Homo sapiens: one gene and its partners. The protein of the gene in region 4 interacts with the protein of the main gene of each other region in a pairwise test. Each region holds a gene or a part of one and is shown on either strand. Other genes may lie near its edges. The genes, in order: LZTS2, KRTAP10-9, CCNDBP1 and THAP10.

Region 1 (7,728 bases), on a different chromosome or scaffold from region 4:
AGTCCTCATTGATGTAGGTGAAGCTGGTGACAGGGACAGCCTTCCTAGGGGGCACAGCTGGGCACAGCGGCTCCTGTGCCTCATAGCCACCCCGTAGCAGGCCATCCTGCTGGCGGAAGAAGGTGGGCCCAGGAGGGCCGTGGTGGCGGGGAGGAGCTGGCCCCCCGGGACAGGGCCGGCCTGAGATAAGGCTGCTCACACTACCCATGACTGGAGCTTGTGGGGCAGTGGCAGCTTCAGGAGCAGGCTCCAGTGGCACTGGCAGAGTCTGCACAATGGCCATGGTGGCAGAGGCTCAGGCCTGGCCAGCGGCCTCGCAGGCGACCTGTAAGCAGGGCAGTGGTGTCAGAGTCCCTCCACCTTGAGACCCCTCCTGACCCACTGATCCTGACCAAACACCTCCTTGACATCAGTAACAAGCCCTGATCCCCACCAAGACTCCCCCTTCAAGTGCTGGAATGAATCTCAATTCCCCCTGGGCCCCAAACCACACTGCCCAATGCTGGTCTGAACAGGGCTGAGGAGTGAATTCACTCAGCAGAGATGCTGAGAGGCATGGGAGGCCTGGATGATTACCGCAGGGCCACCTGGCAGCAAAGACCCAGGCCCAAGCCCAATCCTGCATCCTCCACAGAGGCCAGGACTCAGGTGAGGGAGGGGCCTTCTCTACCAGCTTGAAGCACAGGTCCCTGGTCCTCTCAGCCAGGTGGCCTCATTACAGGGCAGTTTGGGCAGAGGTACCTCAGGGGTGCAATCAGCACCTCAGATGGTAATTAGGGAACAAAGAGCCAAGGCCAGGCAGTGCCCTGCCTCCCTCTGCTGGGCCTCAGTTTCTCTCAGACAGAAAGGCGGCTAAACTGCCTCTCTGTCGATCTGGCTAAATAAGAAACCCGCGGCTCTTAGGGAGTCCACAGGTGTCCTTTGGGGTCTCCTGCCTCCCAGAGGTGGATGCAGGCTCATACCAGTTTCCATGACAACTCCTAGCCTCTGCACACCCAATCGGTGAGGCCTGAAGGCCTGAAGGAGCCTCCACAGGCTCTGCCCCACTGCCAACCTCTCTGAAACCCTACAGCTTCAGAAGGTCCCCAAACTAACCCTGAGGGGAGGAAGGTAGATGCCCTGCCTTCACCTCTGGAGGCTGCTCCAAAACCTCACTTCCACAGAGCCCAGGCAAGAGGGCTCCACCTCCCCAGGCTCTGCTCCTTCCTGGAAGCAGCTGCAAGCCTCCACCCGGAACCCCCTCCCTAGTCCCAGTCCCGAGGCCGCTGATGACCAGGACTTAGGCATCTGCTGAAGTCATCATGCAGAGCGGGGCCAAGAAGTGGACAGAGAATTGCACTGGGAGTAGGAGTGTGTGCATTTAGTTATTTGTTGTGTGACTACATGCACAGGAGCATGAAAATGAACACGTGTGTATGAAAATGTGTGTGAAAACATCATGTGAGTCTATGCATGTTTGATATATCAGTTCATTCACATACATATGAGTTCATGTGTGAATTCACATGTGTATATCTTAGAAGAGTATGTGGATCAGGGGTCATTAGAAAGCCTGTGAAAGTTATAAATGTGGATCTAACAAGTGAATTTGTGGTGTGTGGGAGAGACGGTGCCTGGACAGACTTGTCAGTAAGTTCATGAGTTTATGTGTGAGCTCCTGTGTTTGTGTGTGACTAGGAAGGTGAGTGGTGCAGTGGAGCCTGTGAACGTGGGCACGCAGGTATGAGAGTGGTGGGAGCCTGGGTGGCTTGAGGGCCCATTGGTGGGGGGAGCCTGTTTCCTTCTCTCTTCGGCGTGTGGGGAGAGGTGGGACATTATCTAACTCCTTTGCCTGATCTGTTCCCCTTCTTTCTCGCATGCCCTCCATTAAATCCACCGCCCTCCTTCCCACCCAAGTCAAAAGACACTGCGAACCAGGAAGAGGTGTCCACGCTGGGGCAGGAGCTGCGGGGAGCTGGGGGAGGGGTAGGCCAGGAGCAGGGAGTGACCACAGGCCCCTCTGTAGGGCTGGGGCTCAGACCACCCCACACACCCCAGCCCCCAGCAGAGCAGATAGAGAACCCCCTCCCCTCCCCTCTCTGGGCCCACTCCAGGGTGTGGAGTGAACAGTGGGGAAGGGACTTCTTAGGGGGCCAAGGGGGCTGGCACCTCTGTTGCATTTCCCCACTTCAGCGAGCACGGAGAAAGTGAAAATTGAAGGAAGGAGACAGGCTCAGAGAAAGACAGGGACCCAAAAGAGACAAAGACTCGGAGAGGCCCGAGGGTCAGGCCGACAAGGGGACAGCCAGCGGGACCCAGTGAGCCAGGGCCCCCCAACCCCACGGAGCCGAGGGCCCATAAGTCCAAAGTGCCACAGAGCCGGGCCCTGAGAGCCACACATCCAGGGAGCCAGAGCCAGGAGTCTGGAAAGCCAGGCCCAGCCAGGCCGGCTCCCGCTCTTGGAGCCCGAAAGAGAAGGAGGGGCAAGTGGAGGCTCCATTTTGAGAAATGCGTTTGTGGCTGTGGGAGATGGGAACCCCTCATTCTCCCCAGCACTCCCTGAGCAATCACTCTGGCCCAGGAGCACCCCCCTTTTAGTGGGCTGAGGAGAGCAGAGGGCTGGAGCTGGTTCAGGGCCGGAGACGGATCTGAAGAGTTGGGGAAAGTCTCCCTCCCACCCAAACTCCAAGGACCAGTCAAGCGGGGTCAAGTCTGCGATCACGAGTTCCCATTCTGCGGCGGGAAGCCAGGAGCCCCTGACCCATTCTCCAGAGTCCAGCCCCCCTTCCAGAAAGTGGGGGCGACTGGGGAACGCCGTCCCCCCGGCTGGATTCCACCGCGCATAAGTTGGGGGCTCCCCAGGCCGCCTCCCAGACCCGGCCCCCCTCACCTCCGCCGCGCTGCTCCATGCTCAGCCCCAGGCCGCCCCCAGCGCTCCACAGGCGCGCCGCCCGGCCCCGGCTCCGGCTCCGGCCCCGGCCCCGGCCCCGGCCCTGGCCCGCGCGCCGCCACTCGGAGCTGCCCGGCCCAGCCCCGCCTCCGCCTCCGCGGCGCCCCCGGCCCTGGCCAGCCCCCGCCCGGTGCGAGTGGGCGGCACCGCGCAGGGGAGGGTCCGAGGGGCGTCTCCGCCCCGGGGCGCGGACACGCGCAAGCACCCGCGTCACGCGAATCCGCCGGGGCGCACGTAGGGGCTGCTCGGCGGCAGTCGGGAGCCCTCCCTCCGACGCCCTGTGACTGCGTGTCTGGGGGCTCGGTTCGGCTCGACGCGGCGGCGGCGGTGGTCACCCTCAACCCCAGCCGGGGCCCCGGGGCCAGCGGCAGCTGGTCATTGTTCCAGCACAAAGGGCCACGGCGCGGCGGCGGCCGCCCCTCCCCCTCCGCTTCTCCAGGCGAAGCTTCCCTGACACGCTCTCAGCCTCAGAGTCCCAAGCGAGAGGCCGATGGCCGGCCGTCCCCCACTCTCCGGTGCCGGGACCCCGCGCCCTAGCCCGAGTAGGAGGCCGAGGCTCGATCCGCGCCTGCCCCACGGCGGGTTGGAGGCGGCAACCTGGGCTTCGCGGAGGCGACGCCACCTGGCGGCCGGCTCGGAGAACACACCCAGCCGCCCCCAACACGCGGGCCCTGCCCCACTCCCCGGCACGGTGCCCTTTTCCCCGCGAACCCAGGCCGGCCTCTGGCGCGACCGCGTGCTCCCCAGCCTCCCCTCGGGATCACTTGCTAAGAGAGAGGTCATTTATCGGAGAGGAGCGGCCCCTGGCTCCCCAACAATCACTGGGGCGAACCGGTGCAAGCCTACAGCCCAAACCTACACCAGCCTCACGGCAGACAATATTCCACTTCCTCAGGGTCAAGTAGTCTCACCTTCTCGCACACAATACAGTCTCCCTAACACCCACAAGACCTTTCCCACATGCAGCCGCAGTCTCAGCCGTCACGTGGGTCCGCGTTCCTTCTTTCCATAATCTTCCAGTCCACCTCACACACAGACACGGTGTCACAGGCCTGTTGGGCACAGGCTTCCACAACAATCCGCAGTCCTTCGCACCCAGTCACAGTCTCAAGTGCACTTAGTCTCCTAACCATCTTTCACGCATTGACAGCCTCTATTCACAGTCACTCACACAGACAACTTCTTACACGCCGTGCTTCACAAATATTCTACCGCACAGCCTTTCCCCTAGGGGTCTCGGTGACCCGGTCAGGTCAGCTGATGCCTGCATCCCTGGGCAAAGGCAGCCTTTCTCCCCTAACCACCCCCTCCCCCGCAGGGCCAAGGCCTGCCGGAGCTCGCCCGGGCCCCAGGAAGGAGCATCCCCCCCTTCCAGGCCACAGCCCTGGCCGGCTCTCAGCTCTATTTTTAGCTCCATGGACAGGGTTGTTTTTCTTTCTTTTTCCCTGGAAAGGGAAACACAGCCCAGCCACCCTGACTCACCCCAGACCCTCAGCCTCACAAGAACAGACTGAGCCCCTCTCCCCAGCAGAGCCCCCTCCTCTGGCCTTGCCCTGATCCCTGCCTCCTGGGGCACCGAGAGCCTCCTCCTCTTTCTGGCAGCCTGCCCAGCTCAGGCGGCAGCTGGGCTCAGCGTGTGTGTAGGGGTAGGGGGTGGGGCGAGGAGGAGGCATCGGGCTACTGCCCACTCCCTCATTCCCTGGGGGGAGGGGCTCGTCCTCCTTTTTCTAGGGGGGCAGGCCCACTCTGGTATTGAGGGAGCGTTTACACTCATGCATTTTCTGGGGGGAGGAGACTCCGACTCCCGCAAGGAGTGGAGGTGAGGGTAGGAAGGGGACCCGCAGGCGCTCAGGCAGCTGCTCTCTGGGCTGGCGGTAACAGGCGGGGGCAGCTGTCCACTGCCATCAAGGGCCTGTCTCCGAAACCTTCAGGGATGCAGACACCAAGAATGTGCTGGGGAGAAGGACGTCCAGGAGCCCGAGTTAACCCCAGCCCTGCCCAGCAGCCGGGCCCTCCTGCTCCGCCCCGGCTCCAGGGGGCGCTGTGCTCCGGTTCCCGGGAGAGGGCTTATCCCCGCTCCAGGCGGAGAATGGAACGCCGTCCGGCCTGGGACCAAGCAAACGCGCCCCGGACTAGGGTGGATTTCCGCCCCGTGGTTGGGTTGGGGGCACAGGCCACTGGTCTGCGGAGCTGTCACGTGCTCGGCGTCTGTTTACGTCTTGGTCTTCACCTGCGGGAGGCCAGGAAGCAGGAACCTCCGGGTGCGTCCCACCCGGCCCGCCCCCGTCGGTAGTCACAGGGCTGCCCCTTTCCCGCACCCAATACGCGACCGCAGAGTGCCCTGCCCGCTGTGGGTCCGCGCGGGCCGGCTGGCGCTGTCCCTGGGAGTGCAAGGGTGGCCAACTGGGCGCGTCCTTTCCGAGTGCATGTGTGTTCGCGTGTCCCAAGTGCGGGCGTGGGTCTGTGCACGCGTGTGTGGGGCCCGTCGGCGTGCGTTTTCGTGTCACTTCCCTGTTCGGACTCTTCGCGGGGACCCCACCAAGTGCGGACCCCCCTCCTCACCCCAACCCCTAGCTTCCCTAGAAGCGGAAAGTTCGTTCAGGAGCGGGGATGAGCGGGAGGCGGGAGTTCCTGCACCTCCGCCGCCCCACCACTCACCCAGCGCCACCTGCGCCTCGGCTCCAGTTCCGGCCCCGCTCCTGCTCCAGCGCGCCCACCTCCTCGCCGCGACAACGCCGGCTCCCTAGCCGGCTCCGAACTCTAGGTTCCGAACTCTGGGCTCCCGGCTCCCAGCTCCCGGCGCCCGCCTGGCCCGACCTGGTGGAGCGGGGCGGGGCGGGGCGGCTCAGGCCGCGCCCCCCACCCAGGGAGGGGAGTGGTCTGCCCCGCACTCCACCAGCAGCCGACCCAGTGCCCAGCCTAAGAGTGACTCGACGGTGGCCGAGGCTGCCCCTCTGGCCTCTGACTTCACAGCTTACTGGATTTGGTTTTTGACCTGGGGAAGGGGGCGAGCATCACGTGACCGAGAATTCGGCTACCTGGCTGCCTTAAACTAAGCTTAAACTAAGAGCTTGACTCTGCCACCCTCCCTGCTCCGATGGGAGCCCAACCCGGTCCACTCTTGGCCCAATCCCCAAATACAGGGACAACCCCTGGGAAGCAGACAAAGAAGGCTCAAGTTTCACCAGAGCAGCTCCCACCTACCCCTACCACGCACACACCTCAGCGTGGGGCTGCCCAGGCAGAACCAGCACAGCCCCCTCCCTAGAGTAGGTATCTGCCCAGGTGAGCAGGCCTGCGGGTTCTGACCCCCACGGGGCATGGCTGGGCTTCTCGAAGACTCATAAAGTCCCACCCACAGGCACAAACAGGAAGTTGGCCTGTATTGCAGGGAGGCCCCAAGGGCTCCCTCCCACCATGGCACTCAAGGCAGCATGTAGGAAGGTCTACAGGTATCTGGCCCATATGGGCTACAGGAGACCTCGGTGAGTTGTTTTTTGAGACGGAGTCTCGCTCTGTCGCCCAGAATGCAGCGGCACGATCTTGGCTCATTGCAACTTCCGCTTCCCAGGTTCAAGCGATTCTCCTGCCTCAGCCTCCAGAGCAGCTGGGACTAGAGGCGCGCACCACCACGCCCGGCTAATTTTTGTATTTTTAGTAGAGACGGGGTTTCACCATATTGGCCAGGCTGGTCTCAAACTCCTGACCTCGTGATCCACCCGCCTCGGCCTCCAAAAGTGCTGGGATTACAGGCGTAAGCCACCGCACCCGGCCGAGTTGTTTCTTCTTAAACCCATCCACAGCAGAGAGGAAGCTGCCAGAGGACCAAAGCTGTCCCCTCATGGCCAAGTGTGACATACATTATCAATTAGAGGACAAGGCTGTAGATCCAACTGGACCTGGCTTAGCCAGGCCTTTCCTGAGATCTCAGGGAAATTTTTTTTTTTTCCTCCCAATCCACCGAACCTGTGAGTCAGGGAGATTCTTAACATCCAGTTGGGTGTAGACAGACCAGTCCTATCCCAGGGAATCCGCACAGGCCCTAGGGACCCCCCACTGCTTTCTAGAATCCAGGGATCTGAACAGACTGGGTGGAATCATGATATGGGGTATTTAAGGCAGGTATGGAATAGAACGTGTTTGTGCAGCGGGTAGGGCTGGGGGGAGTATTAGCTTCCCCTCCCCCTCATCATTCTGGTTTGTGCTGTGTGGGGGTGTCTGCTAGAAGGGTGGGGCAAGACAAACAGCCAAGTCTGTATCTATCCCTCTATCCCCAGTTCACAGAGACCTCACAAAGGTCCCCTACTGGAAACCCCTAAAAGATCTCCTGAGAACCCACCAGGCATTCTAGGGAGACAGGAATGTGGAACCCACATCCTTACAGGTATGACTGATATGGTATTGTGCCTCTGGAAGGCATGGCTGCCGTTCAGCGTTACAGACTCTGGATGAGGCCTAGACCAGCCAACGGCTGGGAATGATTACTGCGGGATTAGGGAGGCCTGGCTCCAGCCAGTCTGGGAGAGACCCCCAAGAAGGGAGGCCCTGGAGGAGCTCTCCCCACCCCCCCAGGTTCTTCCTCACAGAGAGCAGCTTTCCAGCAGCCTTGCTCCGGATGTTTCAGGAGACATTTGTGACCAGAGTTCTCACACTCCAGAGACCACAGACCCCTCCATCGGCCCCAGAAGCCCCTTCATAGGTTGAAAGGAAGAGCCTGACAAGGCAGCCCTGCTTCCAAACGGAGCAGGAAACCTTCCCCCAACCCTTACAAAAGGATTCTCCCCAGCCCCCTCAGAACA
Region 2 (6,722 bases), on a different chromosome or scaffold from region 4:
GTATAGCTGTGTTGACTAAAGTAACAACACATCTGCTGTGCAGGACTGGCAAGAATGTGGGGCTTTGCTGATACGTTTGAGCTTAAACCTCCCATCTCATTTTGGTTTTTGCTTACGCAAGGAATCTACTCCCTTTTATCTCCTTGCTTTACTGCTTTTGGATCTAGTGTTTTGAGATTTTTTATGCCCCCATCTTCCCCTCACTGTATTAGTTCCTTGGGCTGCCACATCAAATGTCACCAAAAAAGTGACTTATAAGAGTGGAAATTTATTATCTCGCAGTTCTTAGGGCCAGGCACCTGAAATGAAGATATCCACAGGGCCATGCTTTCTCTTAGCTCCAAGGGAGACTCTGTCCTTGCTGCTTCTAGTTTCTGGTGCTCCCAGCAAACCTTGGCGTCCCTTGGCTTATAGCTGCCTCATGACAATCTTTGCCTTGGCTGTCATACGCCGTCTTCCCTTTGTGTGTGTGTTTGAACTTCCTTCTCCTTTCTCTGATAAAGACATTAGTCATTGGATTTAAGGTTCACTATAACCCGGTATGACCTCATTTTAACTAATTTCATCTACAAAGACCCTATTTCTATGTAAGGTCACATTGTGAGTGACATGGTTTGGTTGTATGGCCCTGCCAAATCTCATGTTGAAATGTGATCTCCACTGTTGGAGGTGGGGCCTTGGGGGAGCTATTTGACTCATGGGAGCGGATCTCTCATGACTTAGTAGTGCTGTCCTTGTGATAGTGAGGGAGTTCTGGCAAGATCTGGTTAAGCGTGTAGCACCTCCCATCCCCCACTCTCTTTCTCTTGCTACTCTTTTGCCATGTGACATGCCCACTCCCCCTTCACCTTCCACCATGAGCAAAGCCCCCTGAGGCCTCCCCAGAAGCTGAGCAGATGCCAGCGCCATGTTTCCTGTACAACCTGCAGAACCATGAGCCAACTAAACTTTCGTCTTATAAATTACCCAGTCTCAAATATTTCTTTATAGCAATGCGAGACCAGCTTAACACAGTGAGGTTCTGGGTGGATATGACTTTTGGGGAGGCAAGATTCAACCCACTACACTCATCTACTTCCTCCTGAGTTGTATATTCTTTCATTACTCTAGTGGAGATTACAACATGAATCTATGACTTTTTAAAGTCTAATGTAAATTAGATCTTATATTATTTCCCAGATAGTATAGTGTACTAAGACTGCTTTAACTTCATGTAGCCCCCTCCTGAATTTTGTGATCTTCTTGCCATGTATTTCATTTCTATAAATATTTTACAACTTCTAAGACATCTTATACAGTAAATATTCATTTAGATTTCCCCATGTTGTCCTCCTTTTGTTACACTTCATTTCCTTTTCGACTTCTTGCTTCCATCTGTGATCATTTTCATTCTGCCTAATTATCTTTTTATTTTCTGTAGTGCAGATCCTACTGGTGACACAACCTCTCAGCATCCAGAGAACATCATTTTCCTGTCCTCATTTTTGAGGATCTTCTTCCCAGGTGTAGAATTCTAGCTTGGTGCTTCTTTTCTTTCAGACAGTAAATATATCATTCCATCATCCTCTGGCTGCCATCATTTCTACTGAGAAGTCATCTGTAAATGCTATTGTTGCTTCTTTAAAGGTAATATTTCTTTTTTTTTCCCTTGGCTGTTTTTAAATTTTTCTCTGTCTTTGGATTTCAGCCCCAATATGCACAGGCATGGTTTCCTTTGTATTCACCTTGCTAAACATTCTTAAATGCTTTTTGCATCTATGGGTTAATGTTTTTCATCACTTTAAACTTCTTGTCTATTAAACCTTCAAATATTTTACTACCCTTATTTTACTCATCTCCTCCTATGATTTCAACCATTTATATTCATAATTATTTACAACATAAGGGCATGCTTACTACTCCACTTTCTTCATTTCCCTCTTTTCTTTCCCATCTCTGTACTCAGGGCTGAATTTCCTCATCTCCCTTTCTTCACTAATCTTCTCTTTGGTTTTGTCTAATATGTTGTCTAGCTAATCTACTTAGTTCTTAATTTCAGCTATTATGTTCATTTCCAGAATTTCTGTTTGATTCCATTTCATAAATCTAGTTTGACACTGAAATTCTCCATTTGTCCTCTGGTTTTTTGAGCAAGCTAATCAGCATTATTTTAAATTCCAGTTTGACAATTCTAATATCTAAAGGTCCTGTGTATCTGTTTCTCTTGTTTGCTTTTTCCTCTTGGTCCTTTGGTCAGTTGGTTTGTCTTCTAGTAGCCCTAGTAATTTTTGACTGAATCCAGGACTTCATGAAAATTTCCAAGATGATTTGAGCCTCTGTTGATGCTGCTGTCTCCAGAAGAGATCACTTTTGTTTCTGGGAGGCACTTAGGCTACAGGCAGATCATATGAGTTCAATACGAGCTGATTTAAAGGTGGGCTTCATTCTTCTTTCCGTTTTTTCCTTCATCCTAGGGCGTAATCCTTCACTTATATTCACTGTTTCCAACTGACAGTCTGTTGTTGTTGTTGTTTTACCAGAATCCCTCCTCCTTGTCAGGTCCTGAACTCTATGTTTTTGTCTTCCAATTGTATGAGACTACTAAAAGCTGTGCTCAGCCTCAGCCTCATGGCTGTAGTCTGTGAATCAGTAAATGCCTCAATAAGAAAATCCAGAAGAAATATTAGACTCACTTCTGTGCACTTTCCCTCTAATAGGGATTCACTCACTCAAGTCTCAGCTGTCTTGGTGACTCCTGGTGCCCTCAAATAGAGATTTTGTTTGTTAAACCAGGTTTCCTAACTTTTCTCAGCTAGATGGCCAGTCTGATGTCAGCCAATTCCCCACACACAAAAGCAGAACTTGACAGAGAGTTTTATACAGCATAAGAAAAAGGTAGCATAATGGAATCGTTTTCAGAGGTCAAAATTACTCTTCGATAATTTCTCCAAAAACATTTATTATTTCAGCCCATTTTTATGAAGGATCTTCCCTATTCCAGGCATTATTTTAGGCCCTCAGAGACTGAGTGGTGAACAAGACAACCACACTTCCTGCCCACATGAAGCTTACCTTTGAAGAATGGGAGCTGAGCACAGCAAAGAAAATGAGCATGAAAAGTTAGGAGACTTGGCACAGAAATACTGATGATGGGCCACGCACGGTGGCTTACGCCTGTAGTCCCAGCAATTTGGGAGGCCAAGGCAGGAGGATCACTTGAGCCCAGGAGTTCAAGACCAGCTGGGCAACATAGCAAGACTCTGGTCTCTACAAAAAAAATTTTTTTTTACAAAAAGAAATATTGATAATGGGACTTGAATTATCTATGATTGAAGCGTATCATAAAGCTATGGCCTGAAAGAGCAGAACCAAATCCATAGCCCAAAATGGACCAGTTCAAAACTTTTCTATCCTGTCTGAAACCCAGTCCTATCCCCAGCGTTCCCACATGCAAGTCTGAGTGGACCTCGGGGAAGGCCGCGGGGAGCGGCATGGCCTCTCTTTCCTTGCTCCCCTTCTCCCTGTTTTGGGCTCTAATTTCTTCAGTGATGGGGACGGGGGAAGGAATGTGCAGGGCCACCACTGTGGGGCTCACTGGCCACTGCTGCACCTTCTCTCCGGCTGCTCCAGTGATCCTGTGCTTCTACCAGCTGCTTCTGCCTCTTCAGTGAGGACCCACTTTAGAGACACCCCCAGGGACAGTAGCTGGAGGACTCTCTCCCTGGGACACCACACTTTGCGTAAGACTGAAGGGCCACCCCTGCCTCCACAGCCTCCTTCTTACAACCTGGGCAGCACTGGTGGGGTGTGGCAGCTGGCCATAGCTGGTCAACTTCTGTCTTATTTTAGAAACCCTGTGGGGACAGGTCTGACCCAGAATGTTAGCATTATTTTTAGAATGAGAGGCCGTTTCCAGCTTTGCCAGATTCACAGCAACAAAGACGTTCTACTCAACATCGTGTAATACGTCTTACTTTATAATGAAATATGCGTATGTGTACTTGAATTTTTAAATAAAAATGTGAAATCACAATCAATATTATAATTAGCTGCTGGGTAGCAATGTTCCTGGAAAGTGATCAGGGCCATTTTATAAGGCAAGAAGCTCGGGACTTCATCATGCCCTGTGGTGATAACAATTCATCATCAAAGATCATGCAGCCGTGAGAGTTGCCTGTGGCTGACCTGGGGGTGTGTGATGGGGCCTGTGGGCAGGGCTGGTGAGAAAAAGATGCTTGCAGTGCAGGGCACACGGAGGAGATGGCTCCAGCAGTGGCGAGGGCTGGCGGCTGCCTGCTGCCTAGCACAGCTACTTCACGGGTTCAGAACCCGAAACCACAGCCCACGATGCTGCCATTGTGCCTCAGCAAGGAGTGGGCTGAGCCCACGATCCCTGCCCTGGAACAGAGTCCTGCTGCCTCCCAAGCAAAGGACAGGGTGGGCAATGAACAGAGGGCAGGAGGCACAGAGGCCATGGGGATTAGAAATTGGCGAGTCCTGTGTCCTACAGCAGGGGAAGGACCATACTAGAGGAGGAGTTTGCACCACAGGAAATAATTCCTAAGGGCCGGCTTCCTGCAGAGGAAGCCCGTGTCCTGAGGCTGCTGGGGCCAGTGGCTGGACGATGCCCCAGCAACCAAAGATGGCCCCAGGCACATCCCACCCACATCCCACCCACCAGACGCCCACAGCCGTCCTTGCCTCCAGAACCCAGCTGGGATCAGGCCCACCCCAACTCCTGCCCCTGAGGTTCCACATGCAACAGACTATAGCCCAGGTGTGACAGGAGATTTGTGAGCTGGGCAATGTCACCAGCAAACAAACATCCCTAATCATGGCAGACGCCGCCTCTCAGCAACAAGGAAGGGGAAGCTGTGGGCCCTGGAACAACAAGGCCAGGAGGGGTATAAAAGCCTGAGAGCCCCAAGAACCTCACACACTCACAAACTCACTCACTGACACACTCACACACTCACTTACACCTCCCCCAGCTCACCTCCTCCCCACCCCAGCATGGCCGCGTCCACCATGTCCATCCGCTCCAGCGCTTACTCCGACTCCTGGCAGGTGGACGACTGCCCAGAGAGCTGCTGTGAGCCCCCCTGCTGCGCCACCAGCTGCTGCGCCCCGGCCCCCTGCCTGACCCTGGTCTGCACCCCAGTGAGCCGTGTATCCAGCCCCTGCTGCCAGGTGACCTGTGAGCCCAGCCCCTGCCAATCAGGCTGCACCAGCTCCTGCACGCCCTCGTGCTGCCAGCAGTCTAGCTGCCAGCCGGCTTACTGCACCTCCTCCCCCTGCCAGCAGGCCTGCTGCGTGCCCGTCTGCTGCAAGCCTGTGTGCTGCGTGCCCGTCTGCTGTGGGGCTTCTTCGTGCTGCCAACAGTCTAGCTACCAGCCAGCTTGCTGTGCCTCTTCCTCCTGCCAGCCGGCCTGCTGTGTGCCCGTCTGCTGCAAACCTGTGTGCTGTGCGCCCACCTGCTCTGAGGATTCCTATTCATGCTGCCAACAGTCTAGCTGCCAGCCAGCTTGCTGCACTTCCTCCCCCTGCCAGCAGTCCTACTGTGTGCCTGTCTGCTGTAAGCCTGTCTGCTGCAAACCCATCTGCTGTGTGCCTGTCTGCTCTGGGGCTTCCTCTTTGTGCTGCCAGCAGTCTGGCTGCCAGCCGGCTTGCTGCACCACCTCCTGCTGCAGACCCTCCTCCTCTGTGTCCCTCCTCTGCCGCCCTGTGTGCAGGCCCGCCTGCTGCGTGCCCGTCTCCTCCTGCTGTGCCCCCACCTCCTCCCGCCAGCCCAGCTATTGCCGCCAGGCCTCCTGTGTGTCCCTTCTCTGCCGCCCTGTGTGCTCCCGCCCGGCCTGCTACAGCTTCTCCTCAGGCCAGAAGTCCAGCTGCTGACGGTCATGTCCCCCAGGGCCAGCCGGGCTCAGGCCCCACCTCCCTGCCAGTCCTTGGACCTCCCAGCCCACCCAGCCTCAGCACAGCTCAACACAGAAGGAGCAGCCCCAGCCACAGCCGCCCAGCCCCGGGGTCTCAGATGCTCACTGGCTCCTCCCTGACCTCCCCCCCGGGCAGGCGAGCCCTGGCTTCTCCTCACGGTGCTTCCTGGCTGCAGACCACAACCCTCCGCTGGTCGCTGGTTGGGGACGGGCCCTCCTGACCCGGGTCTCACCCCCAGCAGCGTCACCCTCTGCCCCTGAGCACCAATAAAGCGTCTGCGGCCCCAGCTGACTCCGTGCTGACTCTCCGCACCCAGGGCGGGAGGGGGCAGAGTGGGGCCTGGCCTGGCTCTGGGGGGCTGGGCCCCGTGGATCTCTTTACTTCCCCAGCTGGGGGGCCTCGGGGGGCTCTTGTGTGACACCTGGAAGCTCCTGTCCACCTCGTGGCACGTTCTGCTGTCCGGCTCCCCTCCCAGGTCCTGTGGGGCCCAAAAGCCTTGTTCACTGGCTGAGTCCCACAGACACCACGTGACTCAGGCTAATGCCCCACTCACTGTGGGTAGAAGCAGCTCCTTCCCATGGCAAGGGTTGGGGCTGTCCCGGGGGGTGGCAGGCCCCAGCTGTGCTGGGAGGTGGGAGACGGGCGGTGGGGGGTGGGTGTGGAGACTTGGGCTCCAGCTGTCCCAGCACTCAGGAGTTCCACTCGGAGAGAGCTTGGCCATCCTGGCCTCCTGTGGACACTCACAGACGCTCAGGGATGGCCCCTGCTCCAGCCCTGGGCTTGCCGCTGGGATGCAGAGCAGAGAACAG
Region 3 (7,935 bases), about 28 Mb from region 4:
AGGGAGGGAGAGAGACAGACAGACCAACTGACAGACCATGGTTATTAAACCATTAACCAGGTCTCTCTCTTTTTTTAACAGAATCAGAATATGTAACTAAAGGTAACTAGCATGGACTCGACAATGCTCCATGTTAACTATTTTCCTTCTAGGTGGTCACTGGCTTTCTCATCTTCCTTGTCCTCAATTTTCTGTTAAATTCTAAGTCAATACTATACAAATGTGGTCCAGGTTGGAGCCAGTCTACAAACTGTTTGTGACCAGTCAGGGATGAGATAAGCAGTGACTGAGAGTGTTTAGAAACTTTTATGGCAATTTGACATTTATTCAACATCCGAGCACATAATTTTATTAAAGTATCATTCCATACAGATTGGAATTTAAAAAACAACAACAACAACAAAAAAAAACCAACAACCACCCATCTTTTAGTAGGACTAAAGTGGTGAGATCTCAAGAAGGCAATGATGATTCATGTGTATGTATGTGTGTATATACACACATATATACATATATGTATTTATTTGAATATATGTATATACTTGAATATTTGTATATATTTCAAATAAATCCAAATTCTAACTTTTCATCTATGAGTGAAACTACTGTCCTGAGCATGTATAGAAAATCAGTTCTATGCTGCCTCCTTGTGGTATCTTACTTGCAGTGAGTTTTAGCAGCAAGTCCTAAGTGCATTTGAAAGAAAGGGGTTAGCAGATAAGAAAAATAAGGTAATATTAACTACTCTTTTTGAAATAAGTATTTTCCATGAATCTTTTGAAGTGCTCTCATACAATTCATCTCTTGTTTCCTCATCACAAATCTCAAAGGTAGGCCAGGCACGGTGGCTCACACCTGTAATCCCAACACTGTGGGAGGCCAAGGCAGGCGGATCACTTGAGGTCAGGAGTTCGAGACTAGCCTGCCCAACATGGTGAAACCCCGTCTCAACTAAAAATACAAAAATTAGCCAGGCGTGGTGACAGGTGCCTGTAATCCCAGCTACTCGAGAGGCTGAGGCAGGAGAACTGCTTGAACCCGGTAGGCAGAGGATGCAGTGAGCCCAGACTGTGCCACTGCACTCCAGCCTGAGTGACAGAGAGAGACTCTGTCTCAAAAAAAAAAAAAAAATCTCAAAGGTATGTAGGAGGAGAGAGTTTATCACTGTAGGTACATGCAGCAGAAGATATTTATATCCTTTCCAAACACCTATATATGTAGACTGAAAAATTAAAACAATTGACTATGAAAATCAAATAAGGCAATGAATATGCCATTTTAAAAGAATCTTACTCCTATATTAAGCATACACAACTCTAGAAAAACTGAGCATAGAGCATACGTGGTCATAGCCAACATGTTTACTTTCATTAGTTTTATAATAAAGGAATATTTAAAATGCATAAATCTTTGTTCTAGCAATTCTACTTCCGGGAATTTTTTCTACCAATATACACACATACACAGAATTAGGTAATTCATCACGACACTGTTTGCAGTAATTCTAAGTTGGAAGGTCCAGAACAGTGTTTATGTATCATTTGTGTAAAAAGAAGCTGACACATACAGATAAATGTATATGAATGTATATATGCACAGAATATACGTGGAATAATGCAAAAGGAACTGGGGGAGACAAAAATGAGAAAGTGGGTGGAAAGGTAAACTTAACACACTTTGATATCTGTTGAATTTTGTACTATCTACATATGTTACTGATTAAATATAAAAAATAATATAAAAAGGGTATTATGCAGTATAACAGAATAGGTAGCTTAGACATCAGATAGACCTTGATTTAAATTCTAGCCCCCCTGCTTTTTTTTAAATCTTAAGCTGAGCTTCTGAGCCTCCTTGCTCATCTGTCAGATGGCCATCAAGTATGTGAAAACACCCAGCAAATAAAAAGTGCTTAAAAAATTATCAGAAGGGAAACAACCAGGATAAACTTCAGACTGAACCAATATTTATAAGACCTGCCTACTCCGCGCCAGGAACTGCACTTGGCAATTCGGTCTTCACAACAATCCTGTGAAGTAAAAACGGTAACCTCACTGGACAGATGAAGAAAAGAAATCTCCTGGCGTGCGTGCAAAAGGTGGAAAGAAAATTAGAGGATTCCTAAGGTGTAACTCGGCAGCCCAAGGATTCCACGAAAGTGAAGCCCACCTGTGGAGACGGCAGTGGAAGCTGAGAGAAGACTATGGTCAGAGTCGTGGCTTCCCTTGACACAGTCACAGCTGCCTCATCTGGGGGGTGGCCGAAGAGGAGGCAGGTGCCAATACGTTAGTGCTGCACGGACTTGGAAGACTTCCCTTACCGACCGAGACTTCTCAAAAACACTTCCCGAATGTCGAGGTTAGAATTCTATTTCACCCTCTCAGGTGCTGAGGTGGGTAAGGTACCTCACAGAAAGGATGCAGCGGGGGAGAGCAGTCCCCTCCGTGGGGGACAGCGGGAGGAAAAGGGGTCGGGACGCTGGAGGAACTGAGGCAAGGGGAGCCCGGAAGGAGGCGCACTCACTGAGTCTTCTCCAGAACATCTCTCGATTAAACTCCTCGGTGGTCTCCTGGGCTTCGCCGACTTGTGGGTGTGGCGTGTGGGGGCCGAACGGTGGCGAATGGAAAAGCTGAGGTAAGCGGAGCCACCTCCCTCGCCCAAGCCCGGCTCCCCGCCGCCGCCCCAGCCCGCCCTCTCCGCGACCCCGAGCCCGGCCTCTCCCCGACCCCGAGCCCGGCCTCTCCCCGACCCCGAGCCCGCCCCTGCCGTCGCCCGTTCTAACTCCGTCAGCTCACCCCGCACTCGAGGCAGGAGCAACCGCAGCTCCTCCGCCAAGTGCCGGAGCTGCTCCAAAGGCGAAGCCAGGGTGGGGACTGCGGCTGCAGGTGCAGTTGCGCTCGCCATCTCAGTCGCTTGCCGAAGGCCGCAAACACAGGCCTCCGCTGCCACTGCCGGAGCCGCACTGCGACAGCCGCTCCACTTCCGGGCCACAGCGTCAAGGGCTCGTTTCCGTCAACAAGCCGTCCAGCCCCGTCCCAGAGGCCCTGCCCTGCCTCCTCCCGCCACGAGGCCCGGCCCCGCCCGAGGTCCAGCACCACCCATCCCGTTATCAGAGACCAGGCCTGGCCCCGCCTCCTCCCGCCCCGCCCTGTCCCCTGAGGTACAGCACCAACCATCCCACTCTCAGAGGCCAGGACAGGCCACGCCTTCTCTTGCCCCTTAGGCCAGGCTACACAAGCAAGCCTCAGGCTCACCGTCTTTCTTATTCATCATTCATTCATTTATTTGATTAGTTGAAAACACTTCCGACTAAGGAAGCAGAGAGCCCACAATCCTGTGGGAAAACAGGCCTGGGAACTAATATCTCAGGGGTAGTGAGGGTCGGGCCCAGATCCTCAAAGGTTCCCTGCCCCTGAAATTGCACCTTTGACAGCTGCTGAATTCCAAGCACAGCGGTAAGTGCTTTACATGGGGTAACCCTAAAAAACACACTGGGCCTCAGACACTCCCGTACACACACCCAACCTCTACCCTGTGGATGTCCTAGATAAGGGTTTTCTCTTCACAAAGGTAAATCAACTCTTTGCCTCCTTAGGGAGGGAAGGAATAAAGGCATTATTTTTGAGACTTTTCTGCAGTCCATTCTGCAGGTATCAGTAGTGGGTAATCCCTCCAACGTCCAGGACTCCAAACGAGCAGCTGCTCCCTAAAGCTCACCCACCAATCCTGGCCCTCCACCTGCTACTGGGGTAGAGGCCTGGGCTACAGACACAGAGGCTGGGCTTCTGCCCAGCTGCCAGTGGTGAGACATGGCCTTCAGGAGCTCAGGTGGCTTTTTAACTGCACCATGAAGATTCCAAACTTGGTGGAGTTCAGTGTCCACACATAACGAATGAGAACAGGTGTCAGCAGTGTCAACCAGGTCCGCAAAGGGGAGAATAAAAAAGCTAGGGTGCCGTATGTTGCATAAAGAAAGTAGCAGGAATAAACCTGCCAGATGTACAGCAGTAGCATAAGTAGGTGAACAGGCATAATTTTCAAGTATTTTCTTTGATGGAGATGAGACCTGAAGTTGTGACCAAAGCACCGCTGCAGCAAGCTCCAACACATGTAAGCCATCAAGGGGATGTTAAAAAACGCCAGCTGGAAAAGAACAGAACCATAGCTTACTCCCAAGTCCTTGGAAGAGTTTGGTCTTAATAATGCATTATTAGTGGATCCTAAGACTATGCTGCTATCTGTCTTGGCGTTAGCTAATTTACTTCAAGCACAGTTGCTTATAACACAACAGCTGACTTGTGGCTAGTTGTGTATTTGCCCATGTCCTTTTATTCATCTTAGAGGCAGGTATCATTTAATTTATGCTGAAGTCCCAACTTGTAGTACAGTATCATATACACAGTTAATACCCAATGGTGTTAAGCTGGAATTGAACTGAGTAAATGTATACACACACATACAACAACCCCTCTTTTTTGGTGGAGTGAGGGGAGGACTTGGCTATCAGTATTTTTTTTCTTACCTCCATTTTTGTTTGAGGTAGCATGATAAGTACTGGAATATAAATTAGAGTATCTAAATTATAATCCAAGTTGAGCTGCTGTATGATTCATTCATTTAACAAATATTTATTGAGCACCCATTATGTAGCAGGCATGAGCTAGGCTCCAAGTTGGGGACACAATGGCAAACAAGTTAGAAAAGGTCCGTCATAGAGCTTACATTCTAACAGGGAGAAGACAGACAAAAAAAAAAACCAAAAAATATAATTACAGATCGTGATTAGTTCAATGAAGGAAAGAACTGGGTCATGAGAAGGTAACTGGGAGAAAGGCTCTCAGAGGCCAGAAGGACAAGAATGAATCAGCGGAGGGAAGTGCATTCTAGGCAGAAGGAACAAATGAAAAGCCCAGAGGTGGGAGAGGTCTTGGCCTCTTTAAGGAAGTGCATGCAGAGCATGAGCCAGGTGGAAATTGGGGCAGTCGGCAGGACCCAGATCACTGCTCTGCTTCAAAGCATTTCAAGCTGAAAAGTAAGTGAGCTGATTGTAAAGTTTTTAAAAGAGCACACTGGATGCTCTGTATTAAGCTGAGAGTAAGGAGGCAAGAATATCAGGGAGAAGACCCAGGCAAGAAATAATTACAACTTAGATTAGGAAAACAGAAATGGAGAGAAGTGGATGGATTCAAGATATGCATTGGAAGCAGATCAAATAAGGTAGAGCTTGCTGGTGAAATAGATACAGGGTATGAAGGAAAGGGAATAATTGAGGATACATCTTGGAGAAATCAGGTGAATGGTGGAGTCATTTATTAAAACTGGAAAAACAGAGAGGAACAGGTTTGGGGTGGAAATAATGTTCCTATCAGAGAGACATCACATGAAGTTGAGATGCCTGTTAGACATCTGTGGCCATTGGATATAGAGGCACTTGAAGTGCAGAGAAGAGGTCTAGATCAGAGATATAGATTTGGGATTCATGGGTCTGGATGATACATAAAATCCATTATTAGTGTACTATTTATTAGAATATGAATGTAAACATTTACAAAGGAAAAAACCCTGCCTTTTGGTAAGGCTCAGGATTCATTTGGTATGAGAGAGCTCCTTAGAGACAGCCTCCATCAACATAATAGAAAACTGCAATGAGGCTGGGTGCAGTGGCTCACGCCTGTAATCCCAGCACTTTGGGAGGCCGAGACGGGCGGATCACCTGAGGTCAGGAGTTCGAGACCATCCTGGCCAACACAGTGAAACCCTGTCTCTACTAAAAATACAAAAATTAGCCGGGCATGGTGGCAGGCACCTGTAACCCCAGCTACATGGGAGGCTGAGGCAGGAGAATCACTTGAATTAGGGAGGCAGAGGTTGCAGTGAGCCGAGACGATGCCATTGCACTCCAGCCTGGACGACAAGATCGAGACTCCATCTCAAAAAAAAAAAAAAAAAGAAAAGAAAAGAAAAGAAAACTGAAATGAACCCAGGACCTACTCATGTATATAATGCTGCTATGCAGAGAATATTCTGGACTTGGGTCAGTGTTTGCTAGGCAGAAGTCTTTCCTACTTGGCTGTCTCTAATCCTGTTGGATCATGTTCTACTGCCCTGTTAGAAGGCCATGAACTTATTTTGAATGTTTTTGGATCTCTTCCAAAACTTCAAATTTTGGTCCACTAACTCCATTAGGTGAGTAAAATAAAGAAACTGTTAGATAAATACTTTTCAAATCTGTTTATGTAGTTTTTCTATGGATCAAGGTTCTTTGTGTGTTTATTTTAAAGGAATCAAATGTAAACCTAATACATCAGTTTGTTTCCTAAACAAGTACATTGCTAGGAAAGCCCAGGTCTGGTTTTTGAATAATGCAGTTTCCACTGAATAACTGACCCATTTTTTTAATGTGTCTATTTTTTAGTTTCCTCCCTCTAAAATATTTTCCTTCTTCATCATCATAATCAGTTTTGGTTTACTCAGAAATCTAAAACTTTTTCTACCATAATCCCTTGTTTCATTTTTTTGTCAATGAAAAAGCACAGTGAAACAAAAACAACAAAAACTTCTTTCACCTCTTATAAACACTTCATGACAAAAATGTATTTTAGGCTAGGCATGGTGGCTCACGCCTATAATCCTAGCACTTTCGGAGGCCAAGGCAGGTGAATCATCTGAGGTCAGGAGTTCGAGACCAGCCTGGCCAACATGGTGAAACCCTGTCTCTACTAAAAGTGCAAAAATTAGCCAGGCATGGTGGCACATGCCTGTAATCCCAGCTACCCAGGAGGCTGAGGCAGGAAAATCGCTGGAACCCAAGAGGTGGAGGCTGCAGTGAGCCAAGATTGCACCACTGTGCTTCAGCCTGGGCGACAGCAGAACACTGTCTTGGGGAAAAAAAAATGTATTTTAGATGTTTACATGAGAGTGGTGGAAGGAGTTTAGGAAGCACTTTAAAAGCAAATGAAGCTTTTATTAAAGACTGCCCTGCAAGTAAAGTAGGAAAGATGATCTATGGTACTTAATTCTGGATTTTGGATTTAATTCATAACTGTTATGCAATTAGTCTGACAAGTCCAAGATGTTCTTAAATTGCTTTTCTGACTTCTTACCTGGAGAATTCCAATTATAAATGTTATGCTGCCTTGTAGGAAATGTCCATTAACAAATATCCCAAAGGAAAAGCAGCAACCAAATTTGCCATCAATGATTTCACCAAAAAACCATGGACCTAAAAGAGGCAATGGACAAAAAAGGAGGAGATTAAATAACTATAATTCTGATTACATATATCATGAGATACATTTATAGGAATAAAGCAGAGATATGAGACTAGCCATCTATAAGCATTTTATTTCATAGCCTTCCCTCTTTGCTAGTCTCTGTGTTGTACTTGATATCCTTGCTAACCAACTATTTTTTGGATTGTGAAATTGTCTTAGTAGACACTATACCTAGAACAGATATGTGTCTTATAGATTCTAGAAACAAAAAAAGCACACTCACATTTTTGAAAATTCCATTGCAATAATAACCTCAATATAATGCATTAACATTTCCTTTAAGATGTAAAGAGGTATTCCACAGAAGTTAAATTTCCAGATGATTGAGATTTACTCCTTAAAGCAAAAAAACTTCAACTACTTTTTGAAAGAAATCTTTCTAAGATGCACTCGTTAATATAATGAATGTATTTTAACCTCTTCTTGAAGGCCCACAGTCATTACTTTGTATATCAACTACATAATCACGGTTACCATGTAGAAAGTTTAACTTGCTTCAGTTTTCTCATCTGGAATGCCATGCTGACTTTTCTATCCTCCCTATTATTATTTACTGCCCCATTCTCAGTGTGTGAGTTTCTAGGTATTATTATTATTATTATTGTCATTTTGTCTTGTAAGTGTGCTGGTCTCCATAAGAGTGTCAAGTTGTTTGTCAAGA
Region 4 (7,659 bases):
TCCTGGGGTGCTAGCAATGTTCTGTTTCTTTGACTTGGGTTGTGGTTACACATGTTCAGTTTATGATAATTTAATGACTTGTCCACTTAAGATTTGTTCACTTTTCTGTGTATTTGCTATAGTTCAAGTCAACAATTTAAAAAATTCAGTTGGGTTTTTTAAAAAAGAATGCAAAATTAACAGTTAAGGGAAAACAATAAATAAGCCCCTTTCTTTCCTTGGAAGTGGTGTCTTATCTTTTTGGAAGCCCCCTAAAGATATGTAACACTCATATTTATATTGATCCATATATAGCACCAAGCACCCAGAACAGTGTCTACAATAGCTCTTCAATAAATGTTGCAGAATCACTGGAAATCTGATTTTTAGACAGTTAGTCCTGGGATTGGGAAGAAAAACATTGGGTGGGGGAAGAAGTCAGATAGACAAGCCAATTTTTTAGCGATGTGGTTAGGGTTCTTTATCCAGACCAGGCTAAACATTTATTGCTATCAACTCAAAATCTTTTTAACCTTATATACTTTTAAAGTGACTATTTTAGAACTCACAGTTTTCTAGTAATTCAGCAAGTATATTAATGTACTATGGATTGTTATAAATGTTGGCTGGTTATACTTACTAAATGGAAAACAGATTTATTATGTATGCTGGATCTGTTTCCCAACGGTTAGTTTTTATGGGTTATAAAGACTTTGGTTGTTTGACTAGCTTGGCTTTTCTTCTCCCAATTTTTGATTAGGTTGTGTAATTATGAAGAAGAAAAATGGTGTAGGGGGATGTGTGTGGCACATGTTTAGTATTTATCTCTCTTGCTACACACATATATATGTATGTGGATGTATATGTTTGGGCAAAGTTTGTATAGGTGGTGATGGTGGACAGATGGTTCAAGGAAAGGACAGCTATCTTGACAGGTATACAGCTTGGTGAGGAGGGAAACTGGCAGATAATTGAAAATTCAATTATAATGCAAAAATTTGTTCTTATAGTCATGTAATCATTCCATAAATATTTATTGAATTACTTAAATTTGTAAAATATTGTTTTAGGCACTGCAATACAATGGCAAAGAAATCAGACATGATCCTAGCTCTCATGGAGCTTACATTCTAATATGAGAAACAAATATTAAGCAAACTACACAATTATTTCATGGCAATTATGGTAAGTGCTACTGAAGTATCTGTGCTATTGAATCACATGGAGTACACGAAGAATGAGAGTACATAACTAAGGGATCAAGGGGAAAGATGTTTAGCTGATTTTTAAGGGAAAAAGACTTAATTGGCAATGATGGGAGTGGGAGGGGCATAGTTCCAGGATATTATAATACATGCAACAACTGAGCAAAGTCTTGTTGGTAGGAAGTAATATAGTATAGTATGTCCAAGAACTGAAAGGTCAGCATGATGGTACACAGTGAGCAACAGGGACAGTGGCCTTGGTTAGGGCTAGTGTGGTATGCAGGGGGAAAAAACATGCAGGGCCATGTAAATTGGGTTAATAATTTTGCTCTTTATCTTAATAATTGCAAGATGCCATTAAAGGGTCTTAAATACCCACCCCAATGTAGGAAGCAGGTTAGTACTGCAGAAAGAGTGTTGGTCTGGCAACCGGACCTAAGTAAGGATTACAGACCCCTGAGGAAATTACTAACCTCTTGCTATAATTTAATCTGTGTAATGGTGGCAAGGCTGAAGTTTATCACAAGGAAGGCTGGAAAGTTTTCTTTAAAATGGTACGTGGGGAAGAAGGTAGTAGTAACCAGATGCAAAATGAGTGCAAACAATGTTTAGAAGGAACAGAAAAGTAGGCAGAAGAGAGCAAGATGGGGAAAGTCAGCTCACTAGGGATACTGAACTTAAAGGCAGCTGGAGCTAGTTATCAGTCATAAAGGAAGCTTGGGGTGGGAAGGGATTTATTAGCAAGCTCCATCATCTTCATCTGTAGCTCCACATCTCCTTCGCCCCATCATTTGTGACACAAATAAGGGACTTTCCTCAAGCTTATGTAATGTTATGCAACACAGTTTCAAGCACTCCAATCCTGGAGATTTGCTCAAATTAAACCCTTTCTATTTAAAAACTCTGGAGCAGCGAGTGAAAGCAACTCACTACTCTGCAGGACAAGACTCTGTGTGTGTGTGTGTGTGTGTGTGTGTGTGTGTGTGTGTGTGTGTGTGTGTGAGTTTTGGGGGAGGAGCAGTTAGAAGGAATTAACTGGGTCACTTAATTCCAAAGTGTTAATGATAAGTGGGACCTTGGAGATCACCTCTAAAGCACACCCCTAACTTTGCAGATTAGAAAACAGGAACTTTCGAGATGAGGTGCCTTTCCCAAGGTGACACTAAGTGGAGGAGCCCAGCCAGAGTCCAGGGGTCCTTACACAACCTTCGGTGGTCTCTCTTTACCTGTGAAGCTGCAGCCTGCTTCCCAGCTCGGGGGCGTGTACAGGAGACTGGACCTGGGGCAGCCTCAGAATGCCTGGCTGCCTGGAGCTCTCCTCGCGTGTCCAGGCGGCCTGCTTGGTCTCCCTCCTCTCCCCTCTTAGGTGCCGGGGCGGGCACCCGGTGCAGGGTGGGCACGGCGCCTGCCACCAGCCTCAGGCGCTGGGAGAAGCGCAGGTTCTTCTGGATAACCGAAGAGACGTCAAAACAGGCTGGGGCAAAGTGGTCAGAGCAGATGACCGAGCGGTCATTGCCTCCGTACCAGTCGGCGCGGCAACCCCGCACGAAGCGGTCCCAGAGCAGCCGCACGGCCCGGTCCTTGGGAAAGCGGAACAGCGACTTCCCAGACTTGGTGGTGTTGCCGCAGTGGGCGGCCACACAACGGGCCGGCATGGCGGCCGTCTTCGGTGCGCGGGAGCCGGGTTCCCTGGACCTTCGCCCTTGGGCACGCTCCTCGCAGCGGCCTCGGCGAGGCAAGTCCTCCCCTCCTCACCTGTCCACTCCGGGTCGGGATTGTTTCCTTCCCTACCTCTGGTCACCGGAAGTGGCGATCTGGGGCCCCCAATGGGAGGGCTCTTTGATATCTTCCTCCTCCTCCTCCCTGCGCTGCTCCCCAGGAGCCAGTGGACACAAGCAGAGGGATACAAATTTCGCGCGGGCAGCGCTGAGGTGGGCCGTAAAGAGGAACGGACCGGAAGTGGTGGTGGTTATAGCAACCAGTGTGGCCAGCCTCTTCCCCAGCTTATCCTCCTCCCAATACTCCCGCTCTGTTTTTATGAGGCTGGGAAAATAGAACGAGGAAGTGGTGACGCACTGGGCTCTCACGAATACAACTAGAAGCTGCAACGACTGTGTGGCTCTATCGATTCGGGAGAGGTCCAGACCGGAAATGGTCGTTTCCATGGTAACCCTGAGCAGGTTGCCTGGGAGATGACCTCTTTCGGGTCTCTTTGAATCTCCGCTGTAGCGTCACCTGGAAGGCAGATCTAACAGAGAACCTGGACTGTCTCCTATCATGATTCCCGGGAAATATCGCTCTGTTTCTGGCCGGGCTGCGAACAACGTAAGTTGGGCCTTCTACTTTCTCTTTCTTCCCACTGGTACTCTTTCTGACTGGCGTCTTTGTCCTAGGAGATGGGCTGTATTATTAGGACCGGCACCGCTGGGTCTACTCAAGCTATTGTCTGACCAGGGTTTGAGGTTCGTGGGCTGGACCAAGGCACAATTTAATATTGTATGATGGGTACTCAAAGTCTTGTCCAGGATCTGGGCTCCCCAGAAGGTGGAGCTGGTCTGCTGTGAAAGGCTTGGGTTTATTTAAATTCCTTTGGCCAGTCAATTCCTTTTTCTTTTCTTTTCCTTTTAACTGTGAAGAGAATTTATCATTAGGGACTCCCACCTCCTTCACCTGTCTCATTGAGATGTTTATTTAGACCTGAATGGCAAATGTCGAAAGCCTGAGGTACTAACTAGAGGGTTAAATTGCTGCCGACATTTTGGAAAATAAATCAGTGAAACCTTTTAATTCTTAGATGTGATTTTATTGTTTTCAGCAAATCCTCAGAACAAGATCATTTACCAGAAACAGAAATAGAGCATTGTGTTCTATTTTTTTGTTGTATTTCTGTTTGTACCTTTTTTTTTTTTGGAAATATGTGTTTGTGTATTAAGAGCAAATTTTATGGTTTAATTTTTACATTTCAGGTGAACTGCGGGCTTCATCTGGTTATTCAAACATCATCGCTTCCTGAAAAAAACAAAGTAAGATTTAAGAAGGTTGGCATTTAAATTGAAGATTGTTTTAAATTCTACACAAATAGCAGCATGACTTAAAGTGTAGATAGATTCTAAACTGAAAAATTTAAGTAGATTTGCTTTGATTTCCAGTTTAAAGCTAGTTCTTACTTTCTGCCTACATAAAGCTAAAATAGCCCTCTTTAAAAAACTTAATGTGATTTTATTGATTACAAAAGGGTAAGGGTTTTTTTGTTTTTTTTTTTTGACATTTACACTTTTTTTTTTCTTGAGACAGGGTCTAGCTGTATCACCCAGGCTGGGGCGCTGGGGTGCAGTGGCACAATTTTGGCTCACTGCAACCTCTGCCTCCCAGGCTCAAGCGATCCTCCCACCTCAGCCTCCTGAATAGCTGGGACCACAGGTGCATGCCACCACGCCCGGCTAATATTTTTGTATTTTTTGTAGAGACAGGTTTCACCATGTTGCCCAGGCTGTTCTCGAGCTCCTGAGCTGAAGCAATCCGCTTGCTTTGGCCTCCCAAAGTGCTGGGATTACAGGCAACAGCCACCGCACCCAGTGATATTTACACATTTCTGAAATCAGGAGCCTTCTTAAAATTGATGGCATGTCATAGTTTAATTGGGGAGGTTTTTTTTCTTTCTTAATAGAGGGTAAAATAATGGTATGTCTTACTACTAATGACACCTTAGATAAAATGGTAATTGGGAGGGCATATCCACACATCCCATTTAAAATCAGGGAAGAAAAAAATAGGTTAGCAGTGGACACATGTTAGACTTAACGTTATTTAGAAGTTACGATATGAATATGAGATTTTTTTCCCCAAGATTATTTCCCCATAATGTCTCTAGCATTTCTAGAATTTCTGGCTTTTGATTTAATTTTTGAGATTTTGAGATAAACATGTTTTTCTTTCCTTTCTGTCTCACCTCAGCATTTATACTTACCTACTTTCTACACACTATGTCTCAAGACACAACATGATTTTTCCTCCTTTGACCAAGTTGGAAACCTCTAACCATCACAATTCAGGTGTGTCCTAAAAAGTTATTAAATAGGCGTCACTGGAAGAACTCTAAAGTGAAGGGCAGAGTTCACACATAACAGCATGAAGAAGGGTAAGAAAAGGCATGAGGAAGGTAAATGGAAGGACATCGTTAGTCAAGGAGGCAGCTGTTGATTACATTATATATGAATATGAAAATGGTAAACACTCAGAAAATAGACAATTTGATCATCTCAAATAAACAGCAGTTAGATTAATTGAAAATATTATTTATTATAATTGAGCATAATGGATTCTCTCCAGAGCTTTCCTAATTGATTTCTCTGGACAAATCCTTTTCCACCATTATAATGTTTCTAGAGCTGTGTGCCTCATCTAAATATTTTTTCCAAACCATTCACTTTCTCTTGTGTGGACATCTATTCTGAGAAAATACCTTTAGGTCATATAATTCCTAAGGATATAATGCAAATGCCAACATAATGTTTATAGTATGGATACATTAGAAGTATCTTAATTAATTCAAGATACATATTTGGGGTTTTTTGTGGCTAATCATAAGAAGTTGTTCTGGTTTTGTTTTTCTCAGTCCTCCCACCAGATAATTATTTTAGATCAGTTTTAGATCAAGTGAAAACCTTTCTTAGAAGGCTTAAATATACAATTTTATTATATTATAATAGGACATTTAAAAGGATTATAATGATCAAAACAGTGATTTTTTCAACAGCATTTTATTTATATTGTGTGTTTTTTTTTGAAGCAAATGATTCTTTTAATCATTGTATTTGTGGTGAGAGCGTGGAGGGATTGGAAGTGTCTCAGCTTGGAATATCTTGTATCTGACCTCATAAAATTGATCCTGATTTTGTGGGTGGTAAAATACAATGATAGAGGTGCAGCCATCACCTCTATCTAGTTCCAGAATTTTTTCATCATTCCAAATGGAATCCCTGTACCCATTAAGCAGTTACTTCCCATTCCCTGCTTCCCTTAAATGCCTGGAAGCCACAAATATGCTTTCCATCTCTATGGATTTGCCAATGTGGTATTTTGTGTCAGTTTTCTTTCACTTGGCATGATGTTTTCAAGGTTCATCCACATTGTACCATGTGTATCAGTTATTATATGTTTTTTTAATTTATCTTCACTGCTTGGTGTTAAATTTGTCTCCAAATATTTTTTTCTTTAATAATGTTTTTCAGGTTGAATTCAAGCTAAATAAAGACACATCGTCATTCCCCGGTAGACTTTTACAACATGACCTTGAAAGAAACTACTCAAGTAGGCAAGGTATTGTCAGTGAATAGAGATCAGATGTGGTTCATCATCTTTGAATAATATTAAGTGTTTAATAATGTTGAATTACTAGATCCAAATAAACTTGAATTTAAAATGAAATTGTTCATTGGGACCAAATTGGTTTGGTATTTTTTTAAATCATTGGTTATATATATGTAGCATAGTAGATTATTTCCAATACAGAAAAAAGCTGTTATTATTTTACTTTGAGGGTGGGCTATACACTAGAGAATGGAAAAAGAATGTTTCAAATACTGTATTAGAACAGTATTTGGAAGTCGCTAATTAGAGTAAGAGTATGGGAACACAAATATTAAGGAAATCAGGAAAGAATGTAAAGTCAGGAGTAGAGAAGAAACAATCTTTCCCTGTTACTGTCACATATAATTATAGATTTTATATTAAAGGCTTTAAACTCTAGTGTCTATCACTTGGGATCTTGGGATCTTGTTAAAAATGCACATTCTTAGTGCTCCCCCTCCATCTTCCCCATTCTGATTTTGTAGGTCTTGAGCGGGATTTGGAAATGTGCATTTTAATAATGTCACAGGTGATTCTGAGGTATATGGTTTGTGGGTCATCCTTTGACAAATACTGCCTCACATGATCTGGTTATATTTCTGAAATATATTTTTCAAATCAAGGAAAACGTTCCTTCACATTTGAATCTTGGTTTGTTGCTGACAGCCATTAGCTTTCTGTAATGTGCTCATGTTAAACACTTCTGAATCCACATATACAAAACTGCCTCTACCTCTTAGGAGTTTATATGAGAGGGCTGATCAGTATAGGCCTTTCTAGGTTGTTCATGTTATTACTGTGGGAACATATGGCAATTTAAAATATTGGTTAATTTTCTCTCTCTTTTTATTTCTGGACCTACTTCTTGGACCCATCTAATCTGACATATCTTTTCTCTTTCCTACATTCTACACTCTTGTCTTGGCCAATTGCTGGACATGACGTCAGCCTAACTGCAGTTCCACAGTGTGGAAAACATCTGTCTTTGCCTTATTTGATTCAGTTCAATACTTATTTATAAAGCAAGTATTGTGTGCCGATCACTGTTTTAGGTACAGAATTATAGATGTGAAGCCTCAACTAGGGTTTTTATGCTTGCATTGTCAATTTCCTTGACATTTTTGGT

Evidence for each region.
Region 1: the proteins of THAP10 (region 4) and LZTS2 interact in binary tests that used the Homo sapiens proteins (3 or more experiments, as listed by UniProt).
Region 2: the proteins of THAP10 (region 4) and KRTAP10-9 interact in binary tests that used the Homo sapiens proteins (3 or more experiments, as listed by UniProt).
Region 3: the proteins of THAP10 (region 4) and CCNDBP1 interact in binary tests that used the Homo sapiens proteins (3 or more experiments, as listed by UniProt).

What each region holds. Positions count from the first base shown.
Region 1 is NC_000010.11:100,995,094-101,002,821, reverse strand, and holds the start of LZTS2 (leucine zipper putative tumor suppressor 2), read right to left. Parts: upstream 3,015-7,728; 5' UTR 2,870-3,014; intron 326-2,869; 5' UTR 284-325; coding exon 1-283. UniProt on the Homo sapiens protein: Negative regulator of katanin-mediated microtubule severing and release from the centrosome. Required for central spindle formation and the completion of cytokinesis.
Region 2 is NC_000021.9:44,622,180-44,628,901, forward strand, and holds KRTAP10-9 (keratin-associated protein 10-9), read left to right. Parts: upstream 1-4,913; 5' UTR 4,914-4,992; coding exon 4,993-5,871; 3' UTR 5,872-6,199; downstream 6,200-6,722. UniProt on the Homo sapiens protein: In the hair cortex, hair keratin intermediate filaments are embedded in an interfilamentous matrix, consisting of hair keratin-associated proteins (KRTAP), which are essential for the formation of a rigid and resistant hair shaft through their extensive disulfide bond cross-linking with abundant cysteine residues of hair keratins.
Region 3 is NC_000015.10:43,180,468-43,188,402, reverse strand, and holds the start of CCNDBP1 (cyclin-D1-binding protein 1), read right to left. Parts: upstream 3,001-7,935; 5' UTR 2,905-3,000; coding exon 2,796-2,904; intron 2,635-2,795; exon of another isoform or gene 2,584-2,634; coding exon 2,524-2,583; exon of another isoform or gene 2,516-2,523; intron 2,250-2,515; coding exon 2,170-2,249; intron 1-2,169. Other genes in the region: TMEM62 (transmembrane protein 62), read right to left, coding at 3,817-4,143, 7,104-7,222. UniProt on the Homo sapiens protein: May negatively regulate cell cycle progression. May act at least in part via inhibition of the cyclin-D1/CDK4 complex, thereby preventing phosphorylation of RB1 and blocking E2F-dependent transcription.
Region 4 is NC_000015.10:70,889,434-70,897,092, forward strand, and holds the start of THAP10 (THAP domain-containing protein 10), read right to left. Parts: upstream 3,001-7,659; 5' UTR 2,840-3,000; coding exon 2,411-2,839; intron 1-2,410. Other genes in the region: LRRC49 (leucine-rich repeat-containing protein 49), read left to right, coding at 3,462-3,509, 4,151-4,222, 6,416-6,503.